2 separate regions of the Homo sapiens genome follow, and region 2 is linked to region 1. Evidence: fine-mapped expression QTL. A gene starts in region 1. The other region holds a variant in brackets. All regions are shown on one strand. Distances are from middle to middle. Region 1 holds the start of LACTB (lactamase beta). Region 2 overlaps RPS27L (ribosomal protein S27 like).

Evidence for each region. PIP is the estimated chance that this variant, and not a neighbour inherited with it, causes the effect.
Region 2: its variant is the best candidate, but not a certain one, in a credible set for the expression of LACTB in fibroblasts (GENCORD, PIP 0.51).

The regions. Positions count from the first base shown.
Region 1 is chr15:63,117,203-63,127,961 of GRCh38, reverse strand. It overlaps LACTB (lactamase beta), which reads right to left and starts at 6,101. Exons shown (of 6, transcript NM_032857.5): 1 at 5,734-6,101; 2 at 5,260-5,326; 3 at 913-1,103; 4 at 273-609. The coding sequence starts at 6,090. It overlaps LOC107984798 (a long non-coding RNA gene), which reads left to right and starts at 6,195. Exons shown (of 2, transcript XR_001751584.1): 1 at 6,195-7,222. RefSeq lists silencers at 5,343-5,532, 5,543-5,612, 5,633-6,212.
Region 2 is chr15:63,142,309-63,153,067 of GRCh38, reverse strand. RPS27L (ribosomal protein S27 like) reads left to right here. Exons shown (of 4, transcript NM_015920.4): 4 at 1-4,819. Among named protein-coding and RNA genes, the nearest start is that of RPS27L, 9.8 kb to the left of the region's middle. The variant A/T (reference allele first, on the strand shown) is at 5,677.

The DNA.
Region 1 (10,759 bases):
ATTATTCCAACATTTCTCCATAAGTTTGCATGAACATCTTGATACTGAGAATCCTCTAAATGACTGGGTAGTCTCCAATGAGGCAAAATTTAAACAAGCTGCCTGGATGCTAGGCTTTGTTAGAAACTACAGACAAAAACGCAAGCACCAGACTAGTCCGTATCACAATCATCAACCTCAATGAATGCACTCCGGATGGTATCATTTTGGATTTCCTGAAAATTAACATTTCAGTAATGATGATTTTGTTAAGAGAAGGGATTAACACTCACCAGGTTTGAAGAACAAAGGATCATTTTTAAATAATCTTAGGGATTCAATTGAATTTTCAAACTTTTCTCTCAAATATAATTCGCCTTGTTCAAAATCATTCTTTTTCTTGCCAGGTTTTGAATTCCGGCATTTGGCTTCATTCTCCTGCTCTGTTTTAAATTTAGTAAAATCATTCTTTTCATTACTTTTGCCTTCTTTTTCTTGCTCAAATGCAACATTCTCTTTCATCATCTTCAAGGCTTTATAAGCTTTCTCTTCTTTCACCTTTTTTATGTCCTTTTCATAATGACGAATTCCACTTAAATGGGAAATCAGTAATCTTGTTGTGACAGAAACCTAATTGTAAAAACATGAAAATTCAATTACAATATTAACCTGAAAAATAGAAAGTTAGTTGCCTCGGAATAATGTCTCAGTAATATTTTCCACTTAGAACTGCTGCTGGGAAAATGTCATGTACAAATCCTTAGCCTCAAATTTCAGAAAAATACCTACCTGATTATCATCTGGATTAAGAAAAACTAATACATTAACAATAACTAAAAACAAGCCAAAGAATCCTATGAAACATTTTAAATATAAATTCCAGCATAAACCATTTAACATGCCATTAGTAAAATGAACTGTGAGTTTCAGTACCTTTTCACCTTCATATTCTTTTTCTGGGAATTCGGGAACATAATGTTGTACTGGAATATCAAGATCCAGTTTCCCTGCTTCCCACAATTTGGCAAGAGCAACCATGGTGAGACTTTTGCTGATGCTAGCAATTCGCATAACTGTCTCTGGTTTACATGGTACACGGTTCTCAACATCAGCATAACCTAAACCTTTGGGGGAAAAAAGCAAAAAGTCACTATTAACAGGCTTCATGGTCAAACAAGTTTTCAAACCCTGAAATAATACTATCTTTAAACATGCTGTGTTTATCTAAAAGAAAAGATACTCCACTTTTATAAGTTACTTAACACTGGACATGTAAAGGATTAAAATCTTAGTATATCGGTAAGCCTAACAATTTAACCTTATAACTAAAGTGAAATTGTACCCTGTTTGCAATAGCAATTTTCTATGACTTAGATACAAATTTTTCTTAGCTTATCTAAACAACTGAGTTATTCCACATTTTAAATAAAGTATTCTTTAAAGAAAACATCATTATTCTTCTTCAGATTATATTTATTTTTGACTTTTGAGTAAATTTCCACTGAATTCCTTGAAATAGCCACTCAATAAAAGTAAGTGTGGGCCGGGCATGGTGACTCATGCCTATAATCTGAGCACTTTGGGTGGCCAAGGTGAGCAGATCACCTGAGATTGGGAGTTCAAGACTAGCCTGGCCAACATGGTAAAACCCCGTCTCTACTAAAAATACAAAAATTGGCCAGTCATGGTGGCGTGTGCCTGTAATCCCAGCTACTCGGGAGGCTGAGGCAGGAGAATCGCTTGAACCTTGGAGGCAGAGGTTGCGGTGAGCTGAGAAAACGCCACTGCACTCCAGCCAGGGCGACAAAGTGAAACTGTCTCAAAAATGTGTGAAAAGATGTCCTGCAAACCAAATCTAGCTAACCATCAATTTAATTCGACTGCAAACCAGGAGGAAAATTATGTACTAACTTAAAGCTTTTTCTAGAAAAAATTTTAAATTTGGTTTCCATGTTCTCACAGGCTGAAAGTGCGTAAATCTAACTAAGAAAGAGAAAGTGCCTGCAATCCCAGCACTTTGGGAGGCGGAGACGGGTGGATTACTTGAGCTCAGGATTTCGAGACTAGCCTGAGCAACATGGCAGAAACCGCATCTCTACAAAATATACAAAAAAAAAAAAGAAAGAAAGAAAGAAAAAAGCCTGGCGTGGTGGAGTGCACCTGTAGTCTCAGCTAGTCAGGAGGCTGAGGTGGGAGAATCATCTGAGCCCAGGAGTTTGAGATTGCAGTGAGCCAAGATCACACCACTGCACGCCAGCCTGGGAGACACAGTAAGAGACCCTGTCCAAAAAATAAATAAATAAATAAATAAAAAGAGAACAGAGATCTGAAAAGAAAAGGAATACAATGACTATAAATTTGTATAATCTTAAATATCTAAAAAATATTTGCATAAAGTCCATAAAGCTGACATTTATATAATTTTTGATTACAAGACTTATCATAAATTAGGTATAATGATTAGATTATACTTATACTTGAAGGAAGAATCATTTTCCTTTTTTAAAAAATTTTAAGCTGGGCACGGTGGCTCACGCCTGTAATCCCAGCACTTTGGGATGCCGAGGCAGGCGCATCACCTGAGGTCGGGAGTTCGAGACCAGCCTGACCAACATGGAGAATCCCCGTCTCTACTTAAAATACAAAAATTAGCCAGGCGTGGTGGTGCATGCCTGTAATCCCAGCTAATCGGGAGGACGAGGCAGGAGAATCACTTGAACCTGGGAGGTGGAGGTTGTGGTGAGCTGAGATCGCACTATTGCACTCCAGCCTGGGCAACAAGAGTGAAACTCCAAAAAAAAAATAAATAAATAAAATTTTTTTTATAGAGACACAGGTGTCGCTATGGTGCCTAAGCTGGTCTCAAACTTCTGGTCTTCAGCCATCCTTCCTCCCTGGACTCCCTAAGCGCTGGGATTACAGGCGTGCGCCACCTCAACTGGCCCATTTTTCTTCAAATTCAAACCCCTACTGCGCCCATCAACTTACTGCCTTTAAATGGCATATGAAACATTTTTTTTTCTTTTTTTTTGAGACAGAGTCTCGCTGTTGCCCAGGCTGGAGTGCAGTGAACGATCTTGGCTCACTGCAAACCTCCGCCTCCCGAGTTCAAGCGATTCTCGTATCCTGGCCTCCCGAGTAGCTGAGATTACAGGCACGCACTAGCATGGCTGGCTAATTTTTTGTGTTTTTAGTAGAGATGGGGTTTTGCCACGTTGTCCAGGCTGGTCTCGAACTCCTAAGCTCAGGCAACCCACCTGCCTCTGCCTCTCAAAGTGCTAGGATTACAGGCGTGAGCCACTGCACCTGGCCTGAAACATCATTTTCTAAAAGTGGGACTCCTAGAAACCTAGGATGACCAATTAGATCAATTTCTGTGCAACAGAGAAGTTATGAAAAATAATGCCTTGATAAAAGTATCATAAAATGAATAGAAATCCCTCTCCCTAAGTTTTTTGCCTTCTGTTTGAAAAAAATAGATGACACCTCTACCTGGTTAAAAAGCCTAATAAAGTAGACTGAAAAGTCATTAAAGACAAGGAATAGTGTGTGGGCGGCAAGCCACCCAGGCGCTGAGGCAAGAGACCGAGGACACGAGCTGTTCCAGTATAATAAAATATAAAACAAGAATAGTTATACCAGATATAGATCTTAGATATGATTATATATATCATTAATCTTATTAGTTTGTAGCAATTAGTCTTTATTCCAATATTATAATAATCCTTGCTCTATAATCATAGCCAAGGAAAAACCAGGCCATACAGAGATAGGAGCTGAGGGGACACAGTGAGGAGTGACCAGAAGACAAGACTGCGAGCGTTCTGTTACGCCCAGACAGGGCCACCAGAAGGACTCCTTGGTCTAGCGGTAACGCCAGCATCTAGGAAGACGCCCGTTGCCAGCCGGACCGTGGTCTAGCGGTAGCGAAGAGCGTCAAGAAAAAACACCCGCTACTTAGTAGAACCAGAAAGGGAGTCTCCTTTTCTCCGGGGGAGTTTAGAGAAGACTCTGCTCCTCCACCTCTTGTGGAGGGCCTGACATCAGTCAGGCTTGCCCGCAGTTATCCGGAGGCCTAACCGTCTCCCTGTGATGCTGTGCTTCAGTGGTCACGCTCCTAGTCCGCCTTCATGTTCCATCCTGTACACCTGGCTCTGCCTTCTAGATAGCAGTAGTCAATTAGTGAAAGTACTAAAAGTCTCTGATATGCAGAAATAATGGCATAAGCTGTCTTTCCCTCTGTCTCCTCTCCCTCTCTGCCTCGGCTGCCAGGCAGGGAAGGGCCCCCTGTCCAGTGGACACGTGACCCACGTGACCTTACCTATCATTGGAGATGACCCACACTCTTTACCCTGCCCCTTTTGCTTTGTATCCAATAAATAACAGCGCAGCCAGACATTCGGGGCCACTACCGGTCTCCGCGCATTGGTGGTAGCGGTCCCCCGGGCCCAGCTGTCTTTTCTTTTATCTCTTTGTCTTGTGTCTTTATTTCTACACTCTCTCGTCGCCGCACACAGGGAGAGACCCACCGACCCTGTGGGGCTGGTCCCTACAATAGTGTATAACCCCAGTACTTAGCACTTTGCTTTTTACGGAAGAGAGGCCTCAAGAAATTGTTAACTTAATTAAAAAAGAAAACTTCACAAATTCTGAGTTTTATCTACCCATAAGTGTTACCTGCAAGTACTCAGTTAATGGATTGTTCTACACAGTAGTTACCCCTTATCTGTGGTTTCGCTTTCCTCAGTTTCAGTTATCCATGGTCCGAAAGTATTAAATGGAAAATTCCAGAAATAAACAATTCGTAAGCTTTAAATTGCATGCCACTCAGAGTATTGTTGTGATTGTTCTATTTTATTATTGTTGCTAATCTCTTACTATGCCTGATTTATAAACTTTATCATAGATATGTATATATAAGATAAAATATAGTATATACAGGGTTCAATATCATCCACTTTTTCAGGCATCCACTGAGGGTCTTGGAATATATCCCCAGGATAAGGAGGGACTACTGTATAAAACTTTCAGACTAATAAATCCAGTCCTAAGAGAAAAGTGGGAGTGGGTAGCCATCCTCATGACTCCAATTTATTAGTCACATTTTAAACCTTACCGTGATTTAAAAACACCTGACTCTTTATTATGTTAGATGTTTTCTCTACAATATGCATCGTTTTATGTAAATGCAATAGCATTTCATGGGATCCACTCTAACCAGTAAAACAATATTTTATTTACCAACTGGCACAGAACAAAACAACAATTTTCTGAACCCACCTTCTGACCAGACTTCTTTTCCATCTACAGAAACTCCAACCACTATGCCCGGTGCGCCCACCTCATCCTAAGACCGAAGGGGAAAGAACCGACAGTTACGGGCCTGCTGAAAAAGCCCAGCGCTCTCCTCGGGGACCTTCCAAGGCCCCGCCCCCTGAGCCTGGGCCCCGCCCCCTCCACCTGGGCCCCGCCCACCTCGTCCCAGGCCATGGTCACTCACTAACAGCAAGGGATGTGCCTGTCCGCCCCCTAGGGGGAAGGGGCGGTCCCCGAGACAGGCGGTGACCTCCACCCAGATTTGGGGAACCCCCAAGAGCGTCTGACCACGGCTCGGCGGTGGGGAAATGGGAAGTCTTTCTCGGAAGCCGATCGCGGGCACCCCGCCGCCCCGGGTGGGGTCCACTCAGCCCCCGACAGCACCGCCGACAGGGGTGGATCCCCGGCCCCCTACGCCCCCCGCTCCAGTGGCCGCACCTTGATCCTGTGCAGCAGGTCGCGGCTGCTCTCGATGGCTCTGGCGAAGCACCTGGAGCAGGGCGGCGCCGGGGTCTGCGGAGACCACGGGGCGAGGGACTGCTCCTGTGGCGGCTCGGCCAGAGGCGACGCCTCAGGGTCGGGGGCCGCGGGGGACTGCGCCGGGGCCGCGCCCCTCAGCCCACCTGCCAGCTTCACCCCGAGCGCCAGCCCCAGCCCCAGCCCGAGGCCCCCGACCCAGCCGTGGCCGAGAGGCGGCAGCCCGGCGCGCTGATGGACCCCGCGTCGTCCGCAGCTTGAGGCCAAGCCCCCGGGGGCGGCAGCCCGGGCAGTCACTGCTGACATGAGCCGGTACATGGCGTCTCTGCACAGCCGGCCGCCACCAAACTCACGCACACCCTGCCAGCCGCGGCGCGGGGCGGAGGGAAGGGCAGGGGGCGGGACGGGGGTGGGGACCGCGGTCAGACCCTAGCAGTCGACGCCTGACTACCCGAGCGCCGATCGCATCGAGCCCTTCTTCCTCTCCCTTTTCTTGTCTCTTCCTTGTTTTTCCTTTCTGTCTCTCTTTCCTTTTTTTCCTTTGCTTACCCTCAGATCAAGCGTCACCTCCCAGAAGCCTTCCTAGTTCCCGTCCCATGGGAGTTCTCGCCCTTACCATCTTGCCCCTCAGTGTGCACACTTCTTTAACAACAGTTAACACTTTGTATCATTTAACTACTTGTCAGATTCCTTACCAGAGTGGGACTTCTTTGGGGAGCCTAGACTTAGTTTTGGATCCTCAACTTCTGGAACAGCGCAGGGCACACAGTAGACGCTCAGCAGGCATCTCCTTTCCCTTTAGAGATGCCTTTCTCCTTTCCTTTCCCTTTCTCCTTTCCCCCTTTAGAACGCGCTTCTTTTCACTCTCTTGCCATCTCCCTTATGTCTCATTTCAATTCACCCATTTCCCTAAAGATGTTTTAAAATCTATTGCTTCTGGAATTCTAGCTCCACACCGTACCAAAGACATGAAGTTACATCCAGACCTTATATTACCTTTCTTTTGCTATAAAAGATAAAGTGTTTTTTAAAAATTTCGTGCTTGAAAAATTTTAATCCAAAAGTAACTATTATAATTTACAATTACCTATGATTTCTCAGCATCTGTAAATGATCAGACATTCTTGTGAAATAAGAAACCTAATCTCAAATTGCTACAAAATGTAAAATGTGTATAAAATCCTAGTTTAACGTGTAATGAAATTGATATGTTAATTTGAAGTTACTTAAACATTTATCAGTTTTGTAATTTTTATATTTTGGGATACATACATACACACACACACACACACACACACACACACAATCTTTGAAAGCTTGTAGGCTTTATACCTTCAGCACTGGGGCAATATGCCCCATATACAAAATGGCCCTGTCTTTTCTTGCAGGTGGAATAAAGAAGAGAGCTCACAGACTTGAACTGACAAGCCATCAGGACAAACATATTGAGGTAATAAACTTACTGAGTAAACATATACATACCTCAAAATAAATATATTGAGGTAATAATTATTTAATAGGAGGAAAAGGCAATAATGGTATCCATACCTAGCAAGAAAATAGTGGGGCTAAATAAGTAAAGCTTCTGGGGCTACTCACAAAACCCAAGACTCCAAGAGACCAGAATATCCTAGGACCCAGAGCGTTTGACACTGAAACTGCAGTTATAGTGGACAGATGTACTCTATTAAGATAGTACTGGAGGTTCCCACGGTGGGGGTCACCACTACTCCAAGAACATGAGAGAAAAAATATAAAGAGAAAAATGTAAAAGACGCAGTCAGTGGTGGTTATGAGTGCCCACTTTTATTTAAACTGTACATAATTTTTCTTTAAACTGTACATATGTTACTGAAACACCAAGGGTTTAGCCTAGATCCCATTGCTCGCCACACAGAAAGCCAGTCACCAAGACAATGAGTATCGCCGGGGGAAAACAAAGCTTTTTCAGGTGCTGCAGCCAGGGAAACGGGAGTTCAGTCTCAAGTCCATTTCCTCAGCTAACTAAAATTAGGGGTTTATATAGCAAGGAAGAAATGTAACTATGTGTGGGGAAACAGGAAATAGGGAGGGATAAGGAAGAAGAATTGTTCAACAGGAAGCAGGTGGTTGGTTAGGCCGGGGGTCCCAACCCCTGGGCCATGGACTAGTTAGGAACTGGGCCACACAGCAGGAGGTGAGTGGCAGGTGAGGGAGCATTATTGCCTGAGCTCCACCTCCTGTCAGATCAGTCATGACCTTAGATGCTCATAGGAGCTCGAACCCTATTGTGAACTGCGCATGTGAGGGATCTAGGTTGCTTGCTCCTTATGATAATCTAACTAATGCCTGATGATCTGAGGTGGAACAGTTTCATCCTGAAACCATACCCATCAGCCCCAACCCCACACCCCATGGAAAAACTTTCTTCCATGAAACCTGTCCCTGGTGCCAAAAAAGCTGGGAACCGCTGGGTTAGGCAATCATGACAGGTGAAGGATCTGGTGTCTCATTGTCCAAATGTGGTGATCTGGTAAGTTTCAGTTTCTTGATACTATCTGGGAGACCTGATGGTTGGTTTCCTCCAAAAGGAACTCAGATAAGACAAATGTAAGTTTCTCAAGTTTTAAGACTGGGCAGGTCAATTTTCTCTCTTTATTCAAAATAAACCATAAACATATTCTATTGGACAATTGGGCTGGTTTCACATATGTGTTTTTTGCACTCTTCTGTACCTCTCCTTGGATAAAAAATAAAAAAAGAAACAGAGCCCTGTGTTTGCCATGTACAGGGCAAAAGCCAATGTCCTGGTGGACTTCCAGTCTAGAAGCAGGTACAGAGAGGCCATTTGAAGTATGGCTTCTGGGAAGTGTTAACCTAAAAGGAAGAGGCTGAGGCACAAAATATAATTTAAAGACTTTACTTTAGCCAAAGTGAGGACAGCTGCCCTGAAGACTCAGACCCAAGGAAACTTGGAATGAGCTCCCCATTAAGGGGAGCTCCCCTGTCCTCCTTTGCCTTTAAAGGCAAAAAAAGGGGGACAGGGAATGGGCTGATACAAAGTTGTTTGTCAGGGATCCCCATTGGTTTACAGAAATAACAATGATTGGCTATATACATTGTTAAGCAACAGGGTATGGGTTCTAGCGTCTGGTGCCCCATTATTAGGTTAATTTATAACTACTCGTGGCAACAGCAAGCAGTTTCAAGAGATGAATACATAGCTTATTGTGGGGGTAGGACATGAATGCCATCTCTTTTTTTTTTTTTTTTTTTTTAAGATAAGGTCTCACTCTGTTGCCCTGGCTGGAGTGCAGTGGCGTGATCATGGCTCATTGCAGCCCCAACCTCCCAGGCTCAGGTGATCCTCCCACCTTAGCCTCTTGAGTAGCTAGGACCACAGGCATGCACCACCACACCTGGCTAATTTTTGTATTTTTTTTAGAGATGGGCTTTCGCCATGTTGCCCAGGTTGATCTCAAACACCTGGGCTTAAGCGATCCTCCCACCTCGACCTCCCAAAGTGCTGGGATTACAGGTGTGAGCCACAATACTCAGCCACCATCTCATTTTAATGTCTCCCTGGGCCTGATAATTTGAAAGGACTTGCATTCTTCACATAAAAGTTATTTTCTTTTCTCAGAAGGTAACAGAAAATAAATTGTTCTCCAGCAAGCTGAGTGCCCAGGAGGCAACCTGACCAAGCAGCCTGCAGACTTGTTGGCAGGATCTTTACTACAACTCTAGGGCAGGAGCCCAGAGCCCCAGCATTTGAGCTGGCTTTGGGGTGGGAGCCGCAGAGACCAGATAGAAGAAAGGTAAACAGGCCAGGCGCGGTGGCTCACTCCTGTAATCCCAGCACTTTTGGAGGCTGAGGCAGGTGGATCACGAGGTTAAGAGATCAAGACCAGCCTGGCCAACATGGTGAAACCCCGTCTCTACTAAAAATACAAAAATTAGCTGGGCATGGTGGCACATACTTGTAGTCCCAGCTACTCGGGAGGCCGAGGCAGGAGAATCACTGGAACCCGGGAGGCGGAGGTTGCAGTGAGCTGAAATCACGCCACTGCACTGCAGCCTAGATGACAGAGCGAGACTTTGTCTCAAAAAAAAAAATAAATAAAAAAGGTAAATGACTACACATGGAGAAGAATGGGAAGAGAGAAAAAAAGTGAGGAAAAGGGGAAGGAAAGAAACTTTCCACTAAAAATAAATCTGCAAACCAAGTTTCCAAAACATATTTTTAAAAGTTTTCTAAAAAACACTGACAATAAAATCAACCACCAAATTGTGAAATCACCCCAAACAAAATAAAATCAGTAGAAGGATATACAGGAAAAGAGGAAAAAGAGAGGCCTTTCCCTGGCTAAGAAAAAGATGGGTGATAGAAAATAAAACAAATATATATATTTTAAAACAAATATATATTTTTAAATATATATTTTTATATATTGAAATATATAAAACAAGTATATATAAAATATTTTTTATATATTTGTGTATTTATATATTTTATATATTTGTTGAAAATATATATAAAAGATAAATAAATGTATAATATCTACACAACAAAAAAGGAATTACAAAACAAAATAGGAATAAATGAAGCAAAACCATATAAATATGAAAATGCACTTATCAGAAATTGGGGAAATAAAAGATCATGAGAGAACTTTAATATCATCTCTTCTGAAGCTGGAGCTACAGTTTTGATGGACTGCTGTAACTGCGTCCAAAGCTTGTACTGCTCACCACACAACAGCCAATCAGTCAAGAGACAGGCGTTGGAGCAGGGAAGATGACTTTATTCTGTGGAGCCAGCAAACCAAGATGGCAGACTACTGTCCTAAAGAAGCATCTTAAGTAAATGTGAATGTTGGGCTCCTTTTATGTTAGGGGAGGGGGAAAACGGGAAGAGGCTTAGGTCAAAAGGTGACCAGTGACCACAGACATCTGGGTGGCAGCAAGGGTAAGCTTCTTTGTCTTTGTCAGGTCACAGTGCTCTTAC
Region 2 (10,759 bases), 25 kb before region 1:
CATAGTTTATGAAGTAATCCTGGGGAGCTGAGACGGGGAGTGTATCCACTCACTATACAACTCCTCATTGGACTAGGAAGATAGTCCAGTTTCTACTCTGCTTCTATTTGATTTGTTACCTTGTGGCAGGTATTTAAAACAGGCATTTCCTATCAACAGGTAGGCCTCTAATGTGAGCAACTGATCCTCTTACATACTGCTTAAATCAGAGAACTGTTGCACAAGAACTAAAGAATGATGGCAAGTTTGGGGTGTATATAGTTGTATAAGGAAGGCTGGGCGCAGTGGCTCACACCTGTAATCCCAGCACTTTGGGAGCCTGAGGCAGGTGGATCACCTGAGGTCGGGAGTTCAAGACCAGCCTGACCAACATGGAAAAACCCCGTCTCTACTAAAAATGCAAAATTAGCTGGGCGTGGTGGTGCATGCCTGTAATCTCAGCTAACTCGGGAGGCTGAGGCAGGAGAATTCGCTTGAACCTGGGAGGTGGAGGTTGTGGTGAGCCAAGATCGTGCCATTGCACTCTAGCCTGGGCAACAAGCACGAAACTCCGTCTCAAAAAAAAAAAGAAAAAAAAAATATATATATATACATATATATGTAGATGACCCAGAGATTCTCAGACTTTTAGTTTCTGACATCATTAGAATCTCAGTAATTTTTTTCAGGCCATTCCTTGGCCAAAAGAAATACCTAACAGTTACATTTATTAACTTATGTTCTAACAACTCTAGTAGCCATTTGAAAAAAACTATACACACACAAGAGCAAAAGTGATGTGATGATTTTTTTAAAAATAGAGACAGTGTCTTGGCTCTATTGCCCAGGTTGGAGGGTCATAGCTCATTGTGACCTCAAACTCCTGGGCTCAAGCAAGCCTCCCACCTCTGCCTCCTGAGTAGCGGAGACTTCAGGCACGTGCCACCACGCCCGCCTAATTTTTTTGTAGAGATGGGGCTCTGGCTGTGTTGCCCAGGCTGTAAGGAACTCCTGGCCTCAGGTGATCTGCCTTGGCCTACCAAAGTGCTGGGATTACAGGTGTGAGCCACTGTGCCCAGCCTGATGTGATAATTTTTATCTCATCCTTAAATCATCACAGTTACTAATGGAATGTGTGTGCCTTTTGGGCTCCATACAGTTTCTCAAAATTGAAATCAGATTGGACACCATTGTCCTTATTTCTTCCACATTGATTTTTGCATGGTGCTTTTTGTCATAGCAGTGGCTCCAAACCCAGCTTCACAAGGATAGGATGCCATCAAAGGGAATGTAGTGCCATATCATATTGAAACTGAACTTCCTGGAACTAGTAGTTTATACAAAAGATGCGTCAGTGTCAAGTGTTTTTCCTGAGGTACTCCAAGGCACTTCAGCTTGCACAGTTTAGGATACTTGGCTATAAGGAGAGACAGTGGGATGACAGCTTTTGATGAGAAGGAATCAAACCTATGATGAGGACTAATCTAACAAACCCTGAAAATTCCCTTGGAAGTATTTTTTAAAAAAGGATTATACTTTAAAGACCACATCTAAGGGCTGGGCGCGGTGGCTCACACCTATAATCCCAGCAGTTTGGGAGGCTGAGGCAGGCAGATCACTTGCAGTCAGGAGTTCGAGACCAGCCTGGCCAACACAGTGAAACCCCGTCTCTACTAAACATACAAAAATTAGCTGGGCGTGGTGGTGTACACCTGTAGTCCCAGCTACTTGGGAGGCTGAGGCACAAGAATTGCTTGAAACCAGGAGGCAGAGGTTGCAGTGAGCCAAAATCGCACCACTGCACTTCAGCCTGGGTGACAGCGTGAAGCTGTGTCTCAAAGAAAGAACACATCTAAGGATTTACATGGCATTGGGAAACGAATGGTGTATTAAGTTTTACTTTATTATTAATCTAGATGGTATTACTGGTTTTGAAAAGTGCTGAATAGGACACCAGGACTTTCCCAAACTTCAGGGTCAGCCACATACATTATTATATACTGAATGTTTTAAATATTATTTATATTGACTTCATATTTTAATGTAAATATATTTGTAAAGGAAACCTTCCATAAACTTAATATAAATTTATTTTTAGGGGAAGGCTTCCTAAATGGAAAAACCAGTTACATAAAGATAGCTAAAAATAGGCCGGGCGCAGTGGCTCACGCCTATAATCCCAGCACTTTGGGAGGCCGAGGCGGGTGGATCACGAGGTCAGGAGATCGAGACCACCCTGGCTAACACGGTGTAACCCCGTCTCTACTAAAAATACAAAAAATTAGCCGGGCATGGTGGTGGGCGCCTGTAGTCCCAGCTACTTGGGAGGCTGAGGCAGGAGAATGGCGTGAACCTGGGAGGCGGAGCTTGCAGTGAGCCAAGATCACGCCTCTGCACTCCAGCCTGGGTGACAGAGCAAGACTCCAGCTCAAGAAAAAAATAAATAAGCTAAAAATAAAATGAAATTCTTGGCTTCTGGCCTGATGAGATGACAAATGGTTTTGTGTCTGGTCGTTCCTGTAAGTCATCTGATAAAGCTCTAATTCCTTTCTGTTTTATTTTTCTGGAGATATGATTCAGATACTATAAAATCCAAACTTCTGTGATGTAAAAGTCAGTAGTTTTTACTATATTTACAAGGTTGTGCAACCATTACTACTGTCTAATCCCAGACCATTTTCATCACCTTAGAAAGAAACTTCATACCTATCAGCATTCACTCCCTATTCTTCCCTCCTCTCAGCCATTGGCAGCCACTAAGCTACTTTTGTCTCCATGGATTTGCTTCTTCTCAATATTTCATATAATGCTATTTCGTATAAATGGAATCACATGGTATGTAGCTTCTGTATGTTTCACTTAGCATAATGTTTTCAAGGGCTGTCCATGCTGTTGCATGTATCAATATTTCATTCCTTTTTTTGACAATATTCTGTGTAATAATATACAATGTTTATCCATTCATCAGTTGATAGATACTTAGAGTGTTTTCACTTTTTATTTATTTATTTTTGAGATGGAGTCTTGCTCTGTTCCCTAGGTGGAGTGCAGTGGCGTGATCTCAGCTCACTGCAACCTCCTCCACCTCCCAGGCTTGAGTGACCCTCTGGCCTCAGCCTCCCGAGTAGCTGGAACTACAGGCACGTGCCACCACACCCCGCTAATTTTTTGTATTTTTTGTAGAGATGGGGTTTCGCCATGTTGCCCAGGCTGGTCTTGAACTCCTTGCCTCAGGCCATCCGCCCACCTCAGCCTCCCAAAGTGCTGGCATTACAGGTGTGAGCCACTGCATCCGGCCAAATAAAGTATTCTTAATGACATCTGCAAAATCCATTTTGCTATGTAAGGTAACATATTCGTAGGTTCTGGGGATTAGGGTGTGGGAATCTTTAGAGGGCCATTATTCTGCTACCACAGAATATAAAGTTGTAAAATTCTACCCCATATTTGGAAACTGAGATTCTTAAATTATGTCTTTGTAATTCTCTTTTTTCTTTTTCTTTCTTTTTTTTTTTTTTTTTTGAGACGGAGTCTTGCTCCGTCGCCCAGGCTGAAGTGCAGTGGCGCAATCTCAGTTCACCGCAAGCTCCTCCTCCTGGGTTCACGCCATTCTCCTGCCTCAGCCTCCAGAGTACCTGAGACTACAGGCGTGTGCCACCACGCCGGGCTAATTTTTTTAAAGTATTTTTAGTAGAGATGGGGTTTCACCGTGTTAGCCAGGATGGTCTCGATCTGCTGACCTCGTGATCCGCCTGCCTCGGCCTCTCATGTCTTCGTAATTTTCCATGGAAAAAAACTTAAATCTTTGGAAGGAATAGAGTACATTATTGCATTTTACAAAGAAAAGGATAACTTTTATAGAATAATGACCTTGTATTCTTTTAGGATTTTACAGCTACTTTTTCACAACTATAGGCATAGAAAATGACATCAGGGGCCGGGCGCGGTGGCTCACGCCTGTAATCCCAACACTTTGGGAGGCCCAGGCGGCGGATCACGAGGTCGAGATTGAGACCATCCTGGCCAACATGATGAAACCGCGTCTCTGCTAAAAATACAAAAATTAGCTGGGCGTGGTGTCGGGCGCCTGTAGTCCCAGCTACTCGGGAGGCTGAGGCAGGAGAATTGCTTGAACCTGGGAGGCGGAGCTTGCAGTGAGCCCAGATCGTACCACTGCACTCCAGCCTGGGCGACAGAGCAAGACTGTCTCAGAAAAAAAAAAAAAAAAAAAAAAAAGAAATGACATCAGGTCATGGTGTTTGCTATTGATCGACACTTAAATAGCCTTTGAATTTTGTTTCAAAGGAGATGCCAGAATTGCAAATTTTCTCTGCTGATTTGTGTCCTACTGATTCTGGCTCGCTTTCCCCCTACACTACTAGGGCTACTCTCACTTTCACACCTAGCAAAACTTCACCTTTCAAAGAATTTAGGCAGAATAGTCCTAATTTAGTTAATAAGCTTTCATTTTAAATCTTAGGGAAGCAGTGTTAGTTTCAGTTATTCTATAGGAACAGAAATTGGAGCTGCCACAGCCTTTTGAACCAGAGCCCGGCAGACCCTCAGCTTCAGCCCTGCTCAGTGTTTTGTGTCTATGAAAGTCTTTTTAATTTTCTCATTACACATTTTATATATCATGCTATGTATTTAGAACAGAGGGGTTGTGTAAGATTATGACTCTATGTTCTTTATCTTGTCTTTGTATTAATTTGAAGTTGTGTTTTTTCTTTATTTGTAGCCAACTAATTAAAATACCAACATATTTATTTTTATTCATTTTTATGTGACAAACTTTTAAACTGAAGACTGCATCAATAAAATTGCATGCCATTAAATATGACTTTTATTGGATTGGTAAATTTTTAGAGATGCCTTTTTTTTTTTTTTAGACAGAGTCTTGCTTTGTTGCCCAAGCTAGAGAGTGCAGCGATGCGATCTCGCCTCACTGCAACCTCTGCCTCCTGGGCTCAAGTGATCCTCCCGCCTCATTCTCCCAAGTAGCTGGGACTACAGGCCCATGCCACCATACCTGGTTTATTTTTGTATTTTTTGTAGAGACAGGGTTTCACCATGTTGCCCAGGCTGGTCTCAACTTCTGGGCTCAAGTGGTCCGCCCATCTCAGCCTTCCAGAGCGTTGGGAATACAGGTGTGAGCTACTGCGTTGGCCTAGAGATGCTTTTTATGGGAAGTCACGATAATGGTTAAAACAGGCTTTAGAGTCAGATATGTGTGGGTTTGAAACAAGTGCTAGTTAATGGTTTGTGACCTTGTGAAAAAATAATAATATTTCTACTTAATAGAGTTATGTTGAAGGTATAATGAGATAGCATATACAAAGAGCTTAGCAAAATGCCTTCCCCACAGTAAGTGCTCTGTTAATAGTTTGTGTGGGCCAGGCGCGATGGCTCACGTCTGTAATCTCAGCATTTTGGGAGGTCAAGGCGGGTGGATCAACTGAGGTCAGGAGTTTGAGACCAGCCTGACCAATACGATGAAACCCCGTCTGTACTAAAAATACGAAAATTAGCCGGGCGTGGCATGTGCCGGTAGTTCCAGCTACTCAGGAGGCTGAAGCAGGAGAATCACTTGAACCTGGGAGGTGGAGGTTGCAGTGAGCCGAGAACGCGCCATTGTACTCCAGCTTGGGCAACAAGAGCGAAACTGTGTCTTAAAAAAAAAAAAATAGTTTGTGTGGT[A/T]TTTTTTTTTAAGTGGAAAGCAGTCATGTCTATTCAACATCAAGTACTTTAATGTTCCATTTTTTCCCTAAAGTGATTTACCCACCTTACCACCACACTGGAGCATAGATATGTTAACTTTTGCTACAAAACAAGTCACCCCCAAATCTAATAGCTTAAAATGTTGACTTATTACTATTTCTCATGAGTATATGAGTTGGCTGCTTACTCTGTTGGTCTCATCTAGGTTCACTTACACAGCCACCTTCACCTGGAGGCTCAAATCATAGGTCTGGCAGCTGGTGCTAGCTGTCAGCTGGGGCATCTCTGTTCCCCTCCACATGGTCCCCCATCCTTCAGTAAGCTAGTCTGGCTTCTTTACATGGCAATCTTGGGGTAGTGTTCTTAGAAGGTGGCAGACAAAAGCTTGAAAGCCACTTAAAGCCTATGCAGTGGGACTTGTGCAACATTATTTCCACCACATTCAGTGGGTCAAAAAGCAAATCATAAAGCAAGACCAGATTCAAGAGAGTGGAGAAAGAGCTCCACCTTTGGATGGAAAAAGCAGCAAAATCACATTGCAAAGTTGCATGCACAATGGAATGAGAGGAAATCGTGGCCATCAAAGAATTGGTGGTCGGGCACGGTAGCTCATGCCTGTAATCCCAGCACTTTGAGAGGCTGAGGCAGGAGGATTGCTTGAGTCCAGGAGTTCAAGATCAGCCTGGACAATATTGTGAAACCCCTACTCTACAAAAAATTATCCAGGCATAGTGGAGTGCACCTGCATTTCTAGCTACTCAGGAAGCTGAGGTGGGAAGATCACCTGAGGCTGGAAGGTCAAGGCTGCAGTGAACCATGATTGTACCACTGCATTCCAGCCTGGGTGACAGAGTGAGACCCTATCTCTAAATAAATAAATAAATAAAAATAAAAGAAAATTCCAAATGGGGGCCCAGGCATGGTGGTTCATGCCTGTAATCCCAGCACTTTGGAAGGCCAAGGTGGGCGGATCACTTGAGCCCAGGTTACAGTGAGTTACGATCATGTCACTGCACTCTAGCCTGGGTGCCAGAGCAAGATTCTGTTTCTAAAAAATAAATAAATTCCAAATAACATAAAACACTAACATTAAAGAAACATTAAACATTTAATGTTAAAATAACATTAAAGAAAGGCATGACATTTTTATGTTTATCTAAGGGCACGGATTGAAAACTTGACAAACATGAATACAGGACCTAGAGATCAGAAGTCAGAAAGAAATAAGGAGATGAAATGGATCTGTTTTAGAGAGCTGCTCTCTTTCTACTTCAACCAACTCAGAGATATCCATCTATTTACTTGTATAAAGTGTTAAGGGAAGAAACAGATTTAGGGCTCAGAATTATAGAAAAGCCCTTCCTTTATTAGGGTGTATAAAAACTTTGATTTCTTTTTGAATTTTCCTGAGTTCAGTGGCACACTGGTAATCTCTAGTACACATGATCTGTGGCTGTTAGAACAAAATTCCCCAATACGTTAACACTGCAGCCTCCAAAATGGCTCCCAATGATCCCAACCTTCTGGTATCCACTCCTTTCTACAGTCCTCTCCCACACCAAATCAGGGTTGGTTTCTGTAACCAACAGAATTTGGCATAAGTGATGGCATATGGCTTCCAAGGCTGATTTATAAAAGACATTGAGGTGTTTCCCTGTTTCTTCAATCGCCTGCTCTAAAGGGAAGCCATAGCACAGACAAGCAGACCTATGGAGAGGGCCATGTGGTGAGAAACTGAAAACTCTTGCCCAAAGCCAGCAAGCCACAAAGACCTCTTGCCCATGGCCACGTGGGTGAATCATTTTGGAATCAGATTATCCAGCCCCAGTCAAGCCTTCCCTCAGATGCCTGAAGCCCCTGCTGACATCTTGTCTACAAACTCATGAGACCCTGAGCTAGAAACACCCAGCAAAGCTGCCCCCAAATTTCTGAAACACAAACTGTGAGACAATAAGCTTTGGGGTAATTTGTTATGCAGTAATAGATAACTAATACACATTATACTACAGGAAAAAGCTCAAGACACAGAAGGCCAGATATGGTGTGATTCCATTTATATGAAACATCCGTAACAGGCAAATCCAAAGAGATAGAAAGTAGATTGCTGGTTACCAGGGGCTGGAAGGACAGAGGAATGGGGAGCAAATGCTAATGGGTATGAGGTTTCTTCTTGGGGTGAAAATGAATTGGATAGTGGTAATGGGTACATAATCTCGTGACTATACTAAAAACCACTGAATTGTACACGTTAAAGAATTTTATGGCATATGGACTGTGAATTATATCTAAATTACGTGTGTGTGTGTATGTGTGTATGTATTTGGAACAGAGCAGCGGATGGAAGTTGGAAGGACTTTAAGGAAAGTGTTAATGAAAACCTGAAGAGCCTTGAAGAAATTGTTGAGAAGTATGGCCTTTGAAGAGGCTGCAGGTGTAGTCTTAAGGAAAGTAAGAGAAATCTTATTGGCAATTAGAGGAAGGGATTCTTGTTTAGTACTGACAGAAAATTTAGCAACACTGTCGCCAGGAGTAACTCAGAAAACAGAAAATGTGCCTAATGAATTGGGTGACTAGCTGATGGGATTTCCATATGCAGTGTTTTTTTTTTTTTGTTGTTGTTTTTTGTTTTTTTGTTTTGAGGCTGGGTAATTTATAAAAAGAGGTTTATTTGGCTCACGGTTCTGCAGGCTGGACAGGAAGCATGGTGCTGGCATGTGCTTCTGGTGAGGGCCTCAGGAAGCTTACAACCATGGCGGAAAGAGAAGGGGGAGCCCGGATGTCACAGGGCAAGAGAAGGAGCAGAGAGCCATACACAGTGTTGAATGTGCTTCCTTAATTCTTGTTGCTTATACTAACATGCAAGAGAAAGATAAGCTAATGGAAGAACTATTGGTAAAGAATTAATAATTGATGGTTTAAAAAATTCCCAGACTCTTCAGATTGCAAATGATGCCAAAATTAAGAAATGGCTTCAAGGCAAAGATAATAATTGAGGGCACTTCCAGGAAAACATAGTCTAAAGATGATATTGAGGGCATGACTATACAATCCTTTCTCAAGACTTCAAAATGAATCAACATGGTGCTTCAGAGAACTATTTAAACAATAGAGTTCATTAGATTATTAGCGTAATTAGTTCTTCCCATTATCTTGGCAGAGACAAGCCCCAAGTTAGAGAGGGGATATTCTGAAGGGACTTTGGGGTGGCTTTTGTCTACTGGCATAAACCCCAATAAAATTCACAGGATACTCTTAACATTTTAAAATATTATATTGTCAGTTAATAGGGTTGCTAAAAAAAATTCAAAAATTAGAGAAATAAAATATTATATTGGCAGAACCACTGTTAACTTAGATGGAAAGGAAAGAGAGTATAAAAAGGCCTTTGGGTCTCCAAACTTCTACAAGTGGAAAGCACACTGAGAAAACCACTCAGCTAGAAAGATACGCTACCTTTCATGAAAAAAAGGTATGGGGAAGCGGCCAGGCTTAGTGGCTCACGCCTGTAATCCCAGCACTTTGGGAGGCCGAGGGGGGCGGATCACCTGAGGTCAGGAGTTCGAGACCAGCCTGGCCAACATGGTGAAACGCTGTCTCTACTAAAAATACAAAAATTAGTCGGGAGTGGTGGCACGCACCTGTAATCCCAGCTACTCGAGAGGCTGAGGTGGGAGAATTGCTTGAACCCAGGAGGCTAAGGCTGCAGTGAGCCGAGATTGTGCCACTGTACTCCAGCCTGGGTGACAGAGGGAAACCCTGTCTCAAAAAAAAAAAAAAAAAAGTAAAAAAGAACAATTAAAAAAAGTATAACTCAGGGGCTGGGTGCGGTGGCTCATGCCTATAATCCCAGCACTTTGGGAGGCTGAGGTGGGTGGATCACTTGAGCCCAGTAGTTGAAGACCAGCCTGGGAAATATGGTGAACAGCTGTCTCTTAAAAAAAAGAAAAAGTATAACTCGTAAGGTAGAACTAAGAGCCCAGAGAACATAGCCAAGAACTAAGAATTATTCTGAAGCCTTGAATACTAATCAGAGTTGCCAACCTCTGTCTGACTGAATTTCAGAATTGCCAGTCTCCTGTATGTCTTCCACTTCCCTACTTTTTGAAGAGGACGGTATCTAGCAATTATCCTATATCTGCTGTGCTACGGTATGTTACACATATGGGGAGCAAATAACTACAGTTCACAGGTCTTAAGAGAAACTACTTGAGTTGCTGTACCTAAGGAACTCATCCCAAGGAGCCCTCATTCACACTTGCACCTGACCTGATTTAGATGATAAGATACTGGGCTTTGAGCTGATGCTATATTAAGGTGAAACTTCTGGAGGATTTGAAAGGAGGTAAGAGTATTTTGCATTGGGAAGGACATAAATCATTGGGGACCAGAGGTCAGACTGTGGTACCCAACTTCCAAGTTGACACCCAGTGATTCCTGCCTCCTAATATTCACAATGTATATAATCTCTTCAACATTTATTAGGCCCCATGTAACCCATGGAATTTGGCAAATGTGATGGTATGTGACTTGAGGCTAGTTTATAAAAGAGTGACTTCTGCCTGGCACTCTCTGTCTCATCACTTACTCTGCGGGAAGCCAACTACCATAAGATACTCAAGCAGCCCTACAGAGAGGTCCATGTGGTGACAAACTGAGTCCCCTTGCCACCCACCAGCCAGAGAACTGACTCTTGCCAGCAGTCATGCAAGTAAGCCATGTGGAAGCATTTCCTCCAGCCCTGGAGAATTCTTCAGATGATCATAACACCTTGTCTGCAACCTCATTAGAGACCGCGCCAGACCCACGTGACTATATTGCTCCTGATTTCCCGATTCCTTCTCTGAACGTTTCTTTTAAGCTGTAGTGGATAACTAATATACCATTTCTCATGCTTTTGTTTCTGCTCTCATATTAAAAGGATATTTGGGCTGGGCACAGTGTCTCACGCCTGTAATCCCCAGCACTTTGGCAGGCTGAGGCGGATGGATCACCTGAGATCAAGAGTTCGAGACCAGCCTGGCCAACATGGCGAAATGCTGTCTCTATTAAAAATTCAAAAAGT